2 separate regions of the Homo sapiens genome follow, and region 1 is linked to region 2. The links come from fine-mapping of genetic effects on gene expression. A gene starts in region 2. The other region holds a variant in brackets. All regions are shown on one strand. Distances are from middle to middle. Region 1 has its middle 13 kb from the start of SLC44A2. Region 2 holds the start of AP1M2 (adaptor related protein complex 1 subunit mu 2).

What was found. PIP is the estimated chance that this variant, and not a neighbour inherited with it, causes the effect. A credible set is the group of variants that fine-mapping cannot tell apart.
Region 1: its variant is the best candidate, but not a certain one, in a credible set for the expression of AP1M2 in whole blood (TOPMed, PIP 0.74).

What each region holds. Positions count from the first base shown.
Region 1 is chr19:10,609,615-10,614,989 of GRCh38, reverse strand. It overlaps a transcript of SLC44A2 not described here. Among named protein-coding and RNA genes, the nearest start is that of SLC44A2, 13 kb to the left of the region's middle. The variant C/T (reference allele first, on the strand shown) is at 2,712.
Region 2 is chr19:10,584,767-10,590,141 of GRCh38, reverse strand. It overlaps AP1M2 (adaptor related protein complex 1 subunit mu 2), which reads left to right and starts at 2,830. Exons shown (of 12, transcript NM_005498.5): 1 at 2,830-2,952. The coding sequence starts at 2,911.

The DNA of each region.
Region 1 (5,375 bases), 25 kb before region 2:
CTTTTTTTTTTTTTTTTTTGAGACGGAGTCTCATTCTGTCACCCAGGCTGGAGTGCAGTGGCGCAATCTTGGCTCACTGTGACCTCTACCTCCCGGGTTCAAGAGATTCTCCTGCCTCAGCCTCCCAAGTACCTGGGATTACAGGCACGCACCACCATGTCCGGCTAATTTTTGTATTTTTAATAGAGACGTGGTTTCACCATGTTGGCCAGGTTGGTCTCAAACTCCTGACCTCGGGTGATCCGCCCGCCTCAGCCTCCCAAAGTGCTGGGATTATCGGCGTGAGCCACCGCGCCCAGCCACATTTTCTTTTCTTCAGCTTACTTTATTGTAAGAATACGATATATATAATACAGAGACACAATATGTGTATGTTGATATGTTGTCCGTAAGGCTAAGAGTCAACAGTAGGCTATCACTAATTAAGTTTTGGGGGACTTATATGCAGTTATATGCAGGCCGGGCATGGTGACTCATGCCTGCAATCCCAGCATTTTGGGAGGCTGAGGTGGGAGGATCTCTTGAGGCCAGGAGTTGGAGACCAGCCTGATCAACAGATCACAACCCTGTCTCTACAAAAACTTAAGGCATACACAGATTTCTAATTTCACAGGGGGTTGGTGCCCCTCACACCCATGTGGTTTGAGGGTCAAATGCATTATTTCCTTTCGTTGCTGTAACAAGACACCAATGCCTTGGTGGCTTAAAAAAACACAAATTTATGGACGGGTGCGGTGGCTCATGCCTGTAATCCCTGCACTTTGGGAGGCCGAGGCAGGTGGATCACCTGAGGTCAGGAGCTTCAGACCAGCGTGGCCAACGTGGTGAAACCCCATCTCTACTAAAAATACAAAAAATTAGCTGGGCGTGGTGGTGTGCACCTGTAATTCCAGCTACTCAGGAGGCTGAGGCAGTAGAATTGCTTGAAACCAGGAAGCAGAGGTTGCAGTGAGCCAAGATCGCATCACTGCACTCCAGCCTGGGCAACAAGAGCAAAACTCGTCTCAAAAATAATAATAATAATAATAAATAAAAACCACAAATTTATTATCTCACAGCTCAGGAGGACAGAAGCACAAAATGCATCTCACTGGGCTACAATCGATGTGTAGGCAGGGCTGTTTCTTTCGGAGATTTTAGGGGAAAATCTGTTTCCTTGTCTGTTTCACCTTCTAGAGGCCGCCCACATTCCTTGGCTCCTGGCCACTTCTTCCATTTTTAAAGACAGCAATCACATCAAACCCACCTCGCTTCCGTCGTTCCATGTCCTCCTCTGACTCTGCTACCACCCTCTTCCATTTTTCTTAAAGAGACGGGGTCTCACTATGTTGCCCAGGCTGGTCTCAAAGTCCTGGGTTCAAGCAGTCCTCCTGCCTTAGCCTCCCAAAGTGCTTGAACTACAGGCATGAGCCACTACACCCAGCCAAAGTCTTCAACTTGGCCAGGCGCAGTGGCTTACACCTGTAATCCCAGCACTTTGGGAAGTCAAGGCAGGCAGATTACTTGAGGTCAGGAGTTTGAGACCAGCCTGTCCAACGTGGTGAAACCCCATGTCTACTAAAAATACAAAAAATTAGCCGGGCATAGTGGTGGGCGCCTGTAGTCCCAGCTACTCGGGAGGCTGAGGCAGGAGAATCACTTGAACCCAGGAGGCAGAGGTTGTGGCAAGCCAAGATTGCGCCACTGCACTCTAGCCTGGGTGACAGAGCAAGACTCCATCTCAAAAAAAAAAAAGAAAGAAAATAAAAAGTAAAAAATAACTATATTATCTGGGTGTGGTGGTGCATGCCTGTGGTCCCAGCTACTCAGGAGGCTGAGGTGGGAGAATCGCTTGAGCCCGGGAGGCAGAGGCTGCAGTGAGCTGTGATCACGCCACTGCACTCCAGCCTGGATGACAGAAAACACTGTCTCTAAAAAACCAAAACCAAACAAATAAAAATAACAAAACAAAAACTTCTCCAATCCCCACTAACCATTAGTGTGATCCCATTTCACGACGGGCACACTGAGGTTGCTTGCTCGGGCCACACAGCTGGTGAGGAGCACAGCCAGGAGTCAAACCAACGCCCTGCTGGAGCCAACCCAGGCCTTTTCCTTGGCAGGTACTGGGAGAAGCAGAGATAACGTTGCGGCAATGGTGTGGAAGAAAAATTGGGAAAATTGAGCTGTTGGACAAGGCCAGGATTGGGAGAGGCAGCCTTCGGGTGCCAGCCTTGCTGGCTGTGACGGCTGACCCACCCAAGTGCAGTGGGCGTGGGCGATAAGAGAACTGCCACAGCCTGCCCAGTCACAGTGCTGGTGCCAGGACATCAAATGCCACCCAGCCCCCACAGCTTCCGGACACTGGCCAAGTCCCCAAGGGCTGCAGCGGCCCAAGGCCTCACCCGTACAGCCAGCCACTGGCCTCTGCCTTCCCAGAAGTCTGTGCCTGGGGAATGAGCATCGCCAGCTGCCCAGACACCTCTTTTGACAAAGGGTTTGAGGACAGCATCTGGGTGGGGAGGCTCAGAAGGGTTAAGGGCAAAAGATAGAGCGCCTACTGTATGCTGGACTATGTTAGGCACCAAACCAGAGATTTGCTTCTAGAAACATTTAACCTTTTTTTATTTTTTATTTTTTGAGACAGGGTCTCCTTTTTTGCCCAGGATGAAGTGCAGGGGCGCAATCATAGCTCACTGCAGCCTTGACCTCCTGGGCTCAAGTGATCCTCC[C/T]GCCTCAGACTCCCTAGTGGATGGGACCACAGGCATGCACCACCACGCCCCGCTAATTTTTAATTTTTTGTTTTGCAGAAACAGGGTCTCACTATGTTGCCCAGGCTGGTATAAAATTCCTGGGCTCAAGTGATCCTTCCGCCCTGGCATCCCAAAGTGCTGGGATTATAGGAGTGAGCCACCACACCCGGCTCAGCCTAAGAAGCTTTAAAAAGATCCAGATGCCACACACACACAGAAATTAATAGGTCACAATCTGGAAGGAGACTTCTTGGCTGAGCTACCTCTGAGGTGAAAACAGCTAGCCAAAGATTTGTAGAAGATTCTTTCACATGGAAAGCTAAAATCTTCCATGGACTTGAGGACTTACTTATAATTAGCTTTTAGTCCCCCTGCCAGAACAGAGGGAATTTATTAATTTTATTATGTAAGAGTTTATTTGTTTACTTGTATATTTGAGATGGGGTCTCATTCTGTTACCTAGGTTGGAGTGCAGTGGCACAATGTCGGCTCACTGCAACCTCTGCCTCCTAGGCTCAAGCAATCCTCCCACCTCACCCTCCAGAGTGGCTCGGACCACAGGCATAAGCCACCATGACCAGCTAATTTTTTTGCATATTTTTGGGAAGAAGGGGTTTTGCAATGTTGCCCAGGCTAGTCTCAAACTCCTGGACTCAAGCGATCCACCCACCTTGGCCTCACAAACAGCTGGGATTATAGGAGTGAACCACGATCCACCCACCTTGGCCTCACAAACAGCTGGGATTACAGGAGTGAACCACTGCACCGGGTCTCTTGTTTGTTTATTTATTTATTTATTATTTTTTGAAATAGTGTCTCACTCTCTTGCCCAGGCTGGAGTGCAGTGGCGCAATCTTGGCTAACTGCAACCTCTGCTGCCCAGGTTCAAGCAATTCTCCTGCCTCAGCCCCCTGAGTAGCTGAGATTACAGGTACCTGCCACCACGCCTGGCTAAATTTTGTAGTGTTAGCAGAGATGGGGTTTCACCATCTTGGTCAGGCTGGTCTCGAACTCCTGACCTCAAGTGACCTACCCGCCTGGGCCTCACAAAGTGCTGGGATTACAGGCGTGAGGCACTGCACGCAGCCTAAAATAATATTTTAAAATAATGCTCTCTAGCCCGGCACAGAGGCACATGCCTATAGTCCCCTACTTAGGAGGTTGAAGGGGAAGGATCGCTTCAGCCGGGGAATTCAACCAGCCTGGGGAACATCATAAGACTCCCTCTCAAAAAAAATTTTTTTTTAAATTAAAAATAAATAAATAAATATCATGTTCACCTTGGGGATCGATTGGGAAATGGCAAAAGAAAAGTCTTGGCGGGGCGCGGTGGCTCACAACTGTAATCCCAGCACTTTGGGAGGCCGAGGCGAGCGGATCACTTGAGGTCAGGAGTTCCAGACCAGCCTGGCCAACATGGTGAAACCCCGTCTCTACTAAAAATACAAAAATGAGCCAGGCATGGTGGCACATGCCTGTAATCCCAGCTACTCGGGAGGCTGAGGCCAGAGAATCACTTGAACCCGGGAGGCAAAGGTTGCAGTGAGCCAAGATCACGCCATTGCACTCCAGCCTGGGCAACAAGAGTGAAACTCCATCTCAAAAAAAAAAAAAAAAAAAAAAAAAGCCAGGCGCGGTGGCTCACGACTGTAATCCCAGCACTTTGGGAGGCCGAGGCGGGCAGATCACGAGGTCAGGAGATCAAGACCATCTGGCTAACACAGTGAAACCCCGTTTCTACTAAAAAAATACAAAAAAATCAGCCGGGCATGGTGGCGGGCGCCTGTAATCCCAGCTACTCGGGAGGCTGAGGCAGGAGAATGGCGTGAACCCGGGAGGCGGAGCTTGCAGTGAGCCGAGATCACGTCACTGCACTCCAGCCTGGGTGACTGAGTGAGACTCAGTCTCAAAAAAAAAAAAAAAAAAGGAAAAGAAAAGTCTCTAGGGAGAATTCTCTACCAGGGCTCTGCAAATGTTTTCTGTTAAGGACAAGATATTAAAGATTTTAAGCTTTGTGGTTCACATATCATCTGTCATATATATATATTTTTTTTTCTTTTTTCACAACCATTTAAAAATATAAGAGCCATTCTTAGCCCACTAGCCTTACAAAAACAGGCCACCACCCAACAATCTAAATATAAGTAACATTAGCCAGGCTCGGTGGCTCACGCCTGTAATCCCAGCACTTTGGGAGGCCAAAGTGGGAGAATCATTTGAGGTCACGAGTTTGAGACCAGCCTGGTCAACATAGTGAAACCCTGTCTCTACTAAAAATACAAAAATTAGCCGGGCATGGTTGTGCATGCCTATAATCCCAGCTATTCGGGAGGCTGAGGCAGGAGAATAACTTGAACCCAGGAGGCAGAGGCTGCAGTCAGCCGAGATTGTGCCCTGCCCTTCAGCCTGGGCAACAGAGACAGATTCTGTCTCAAAAAATAAATAAATAAATAAGAGTAACATCATAGATCTGTACATTTAAAAAGAGTTATGGGCTGGGCATGGTGGCTTACACCTGTAATCTCAGTACCTTGAGAGGCTGAGGTGGGAGGATCACTTGAGCCCAGGAGTTCAAGACCAGCCTGGACAACATAGCAAGACTCTATCTCTACAAAAAAACTAATAATGTGTGGTTTTTTTAGT
Region 2 (5,375 bases):
GTCGGGCCGGGTGCGGTGGCTTACACCTGTAGTCCCAGCACTTTGGGAGGCCGAAGCGGGCGGATCACGAGGTCAGGAGATCCAGACCATCCTGGCTAACATGGTGAAACCCTGTCTTTACTAAAAGTACAAAAAGTTAGCCAGGCGTGTTGGCAGGCGCCTGTAGTCCCAGCCACTCGGGAGGCTGAGGCAGGAGAATGGTGTGAACCTGGGAGGCGGAGCTTGCAGTGAGTTGAGATCGCGCCATTGCACTCCAGCCTGGGTAACAGAGCGAGACTCCATCTCAAAGAAAAAAAAAAATTAGCTAGGTGGGCCTGGCCTGGCGCGGTGGCTCACACCTGTCATCCCAGCATTTTGGGAGGCTGAGGCGGGTGGATCACGAGGTCAGGAGTTCAAGACCAGCCTGGCCAAGATGGTGAAACCCCCGTCTCTACTAAAAATACAAAAAAAAAATTAGCCGGGCGTGGTGGCAGGCGCCTGTAATCCCAGCTACTTGGGAGTCTGAGGCAGAGAATTGCTTGAAGCTGGGAGGCAGAGGTTGCAGTGAGCAGAGATTGCGCCACTGCACTCCATCCTGGGCGACAAAGCCAGACTCTGTCTCAAAAAAAAAAAAAAAAATCAGCTAGGTGTGGGCCAGGCGCAGTGGCTCACGCCTGTAATCCCAGCATTTTGGGAGGCCAAGGCAGATGGATCACGAGGTCAGGAGTTCGAGACCAGCCTGGCCAACATGGTGAAACCCCATCTCTACTAAAGATACAAAAAATTAGCTGGGCTTGGTGGTGCACGCCTGTAATCCCAGTTACTTGGGAGGCTGAGGCAGCAGAATCGCTTGAGCCTGGGAGGCAGAGGTTGCAGTGAGCCGAGATTGTGCCATTGCACTCCAGCCTGGGCAACAGGACGAGACTCCAAATTAAAAAAAAAAAAAAAAATTAGCTAGTTGTGGCCAGGCGCAGTGGCTCACATCTGTCATCCTAGCAATTTGGGAGGCCAAGGCGGGTGGATCACCTGAGGTCGTGAGTTCAAGACCAGCCTGACCAACATGGAGAAACCCTGTCTCTACTAAAAATACAAAAAAAGTAGCCGGGCATGGTGGCGCATGCCTGTAATCTCAGCTACTCGGGAGGCTGAGGCAGGAGAATTGCTTGAACCTAGGAGGCATAGGTTTCAGCGAGCCGAGATCACATCACTGCACTCTAGCCTGGTAAACTAGAGCAAAATTCTGTCTCAAAAAAAATTAGCTGGGTGTGGCGGTTTGTGCCTGTAGTTCCAGTTACTAGGGAGGCTGAGGCAGGAGGATGGCTTGAGCCCAGGAAGTTGAGGCTGTAGTGAGCCATGATTGCATCACTGCAGTCCAGTCTAGGGTACAGAGTGAGACCCTGTCTCTACAAAAAAAGTTTTTTGGCTGGGTGCGGTGGCTCACGCCTGTAATCTCAGCCCTTTGGGACGCTGAGGCGGGTGGATCACCTGAGGTCGGGAGTTCGAGACCAGCCTGGCCAACATGGTGAAACCCCATCTCTATTAAAAATACAAAATTAGCCAGGCGTGATGGCGCATACCTGTAATCCCAGCTACTTGGGAGGCTGAGGCAGCAGAATCCCTTGAACCCGGGAAGCGGAGGTTGTAGTGAGTAGAGATCATGCCACTGCACTCCAGCCTGGAGTCTAAAAAAAAAAAAAAATTAGCTGGGCATGGTGGCGCTTGCCTGTAATCCCAGCTACTAGGGGTGCTGAGGCAGGAGGATTGCTTGAACCTGGGAGGTGGAGGTTGCAGTGAGCCAAAATCATTCCACTGCACTCCAGCATGGGCAACAGAGTGAGACTCCATTTCAAAAAACAAAAAAAAATAAATTTTTTATTTGAAATGAATAAGAGTAAATTTGTAAGAATAATAAAAGCAAGTACATTTGTCCTGCTCGGAATTATATCCACAGTTCCTGTTACTGAGTGAATGAATATTTCAAATTCAGTCAGTAAAATTCACCAGTGAAAATTATTATATGAATGAGTGAATGAATGAATTGGGCAAATTTTGAGCACCCAGTGCTGAGCACTAGGGACATAAACATGAACAAGACAAAGTCCCTGCTGTATGGGGGCTGACGTGTGTGGGTGAGACAGAGGAGAAAGAAGGTGAATGGATGGATGAATCAATGAGAGGATGAATGAATGGATAGATGGGTGGATGAATGGATAGATGAATAAATTAATGAATGCAAGAATGGATGGATGGATGGATTGATGAATGGATAGATGAATAAATTAATGATGCAAGAATGGATGAACGGATGGATGGATGGATGGATAGATGAATAAATTGATGAATGTTAGAATGGATGAATGGATGGATGAATGGAAAGATGAATAAATGAATGAATGCAAGAAGGGATGAATGAATGGATGAATAAATGGATGGATGAATGGATAATGGATAGACGAACAAATAAATGAATGCAAAAATGGATGAAGAAATGGATGACGAATGGAAGGATGGATCAATGAATCGATGGAAGATGGATTAATGAATGGCTAAATGAGTGGATGCGTGGATGGATTAATGAATGCAAGAATGAATGGATGGATGGACGAATGGATGGATAGATGAATGAAAGGAAGGATGAATGAATGGATGGAAGGATGGTTGATTGGTTTGGGGTCTCCACCCGTCATTACTCCTGGGTGGCTAGGGAAAGTGAAGGGGGGCAGCAGACCCATCTGAAGTCGCAGTACCTCTCCCGGCCCCGCAGCCATCTTCAAGTTGGCCGACAGCGCTGCTCACCTGGCCGCCTCCCCTTTAAGACGCACACACCTGGGCTCTCACCTGGGCGCAGGCGCTTCCGCAGGAAGAAGGAAGCGGCGCCGCCATCGCCTCCCGGCGCTCCCTCCCCGACTCCTAAGTCCTTCGGCCGCCACCATGTCCGCCTCGGCTGTCTTCATTCTGGACGTTAAGGGCAAGGTGAGGCTGGGCATGAGGAGTTGGGAGACGGACAGGTGAGGTCTCGCTCCCAGGGATTCAGGGGCGACCCCTCCGCGCGGGCCAGGAAGAGGTCTGGGAACACCCCCTCCCCCTGCAATCCCTGGGAATCCCACCTCCAGCATCCACTCGCCTTGTGCCTGAGGCCAAGGGGTTCGCCTCCTAGGGCCTCAGTTTCTCTGTATGTAAAAATGGGAGCAACAGAGGTCCCCACCCAATGAGAATTAATACAACTCGCTGCGTGTAAACTACTTAGCATAGTGGCCTTTCTGGAAATATTAGGGACTCAGCAAATTGAAATTATCTCCATCACTGTCGGCATCCACAGTGTTAATACCTGGGGAAGGCAACTGGAACAGGGGCCTCTAACTCCCCCCATCTGTGGCTGCCTTGCCTCTTCCTGAAGTCCTTTTATTCCTCTTGTCTTTTTTTATTTTGGAGACAGGGTCTCTTGCTGTCTCCCAGGCTTGAGTGCAGTGGTGCGATCATAGCTCACTGCAGCCTGGAATTCCTGGGCTCAAGCGATCCTCCTGCCTCAGTCTCCGGAGTAGCTGTGACTACACAGGTGCAGGCCACCATGCCTGGCTAATTCTTGACATTTTTTTGTAGAGGGATCCCGCTATGTTGCCAAAGCTGCTCTCAAACTCCTGAATATCTGGGGCTGCGGGCTGACCCCTCCATGCCCGGCTATTTTTAATTTTTTTTTTTTTTTTTTTTTAAATAGAGTCTTGCTCTGTCACCCAGGCTGGAGTGCAGTGGCTCCATCTTGGCTCACTGCAACCTCCACCTCCCGGGTTGAAGCAATTCTCCTGCCTCAGCCTCCCGAGTAGCTGGGACTACAGGTGCATGCCACCATGCCTGGCTAATTTTTGTATTTTTTTTTTTTTTCAAGACAGAGTCTCGCCTTGTCACCCAGGCTGGAGTGCAATGGCATGATCTTGGCTCACTGCAACCTCCACCTCCCAGGTTCAAGTGATTCTCCTTCCTCAGCCTCCTGAGTAGCTGGGATTACAGGCGCGCACCATCACGCCCGGCTAATTTTTTGTATCTTTAGTAGAGATGGGGTTTCACCATGTTGGGCAGGATGGTCTCAATCTCTTGACCTCGTGATCCGCCCACCTCGGCCTCCCAAAGTGCTGGGATTACAGACATGAGCCACTGCGCCCGGCCGCACCCGGCCTATTTTTTATTTTTATTTTTTTGTACAGATGGAGTCTTGCTATGTTGTCCAGGATGGTCTTGAACTCCTGGTCCCCAGCTATCCCCCTGCTTCAGCCTCCCAAAGTGTTCGGATGACAGGTGTGAGCCACTGCAGTCAGCCTGTCTTGTCATTTAATAGCCAAAATAAGAGTGGTGGTGAAAATAATATTCCCATTAATATTAATAGTGAGAGCTAAGATGTTTGAGAACCTGCCATGGGTCCTCCCTGTTCAGACACTGGACAAAACAACCTTAGGAAGTGGTTAACTAATTTTTTTTTTTTTTGGAGATGGAGTCTCGCTCTGTCACCAGGCTGGTGTGATCTCAGCTCACAGCAACCTTCACCTCCTGGGTTCAAGTGATTCTCATGCCTTAGCCTCCTGAGTAGCTGGGATTACGGTCATGCGCCAGCACACCAAGCTAATTTTTGTATTTTTAGTAGAGACGGGGTTTCATCATGTTGGCCTGGATGGTCTCGAACTCTTGACCTCATGATCCACCCGCCTTAGCCTCCCAAAGTGCTGGGATTAAAGGCGTGAGCCACCGTGTCCAGACAGAAGTGTTTACTATTATGGGTGTCTTCCTGACTACCAGGCACAATCATATGAACTGTCATCTTTCTTTCTTTCTTTCTTTCTTTCTTTCTTTCTTTCTTTCTTTCTTTCTTTCTTTCTTTCTTTCTTTCTTTTTTTCTTCTTTCTTTCTTTCCTTCTTTCCTTCTTTCCTTCTTTCTTTCTTTCTTTTCTTCTTTCTTTTTTTGACAGGGTCTCACTCTGTTGCTCGGGCTGGAGTGCAGTAGTATGACCACAGCTCACTGTAGTCTCGACCTCCTAGGCTCAATTGATTCTTCTGCCTTAGCCTCCAGAGTAGCTGTGACTACAGAGGTGCAGGCCACCATGCTCAGCTAATTCTTGAAATTTTTTGTAGAGGGATCCCGCTATGTTGCCAAAGCTGGTCTCAAACTCCTGGCCTCAAGGGATCCTCCTGCCTTGGTCTTCATGAGTGAGTCATTGCACCTGGCCTCTTCTTTGTTTTTTTTTTTTGTTGTTGTTGTTTTTTTAAATAATCCCACTTTGGTGCAAATGAAGTCTGGGGCAACAGCAGGGATTCTGGACCCAGGATGCCTTAGATCAATCCCCAGTTTCCATATGCTTCCAGTGGACATGGTTTCTAACCTCACTTCTCCTGTGTGAAATGGAGATGAT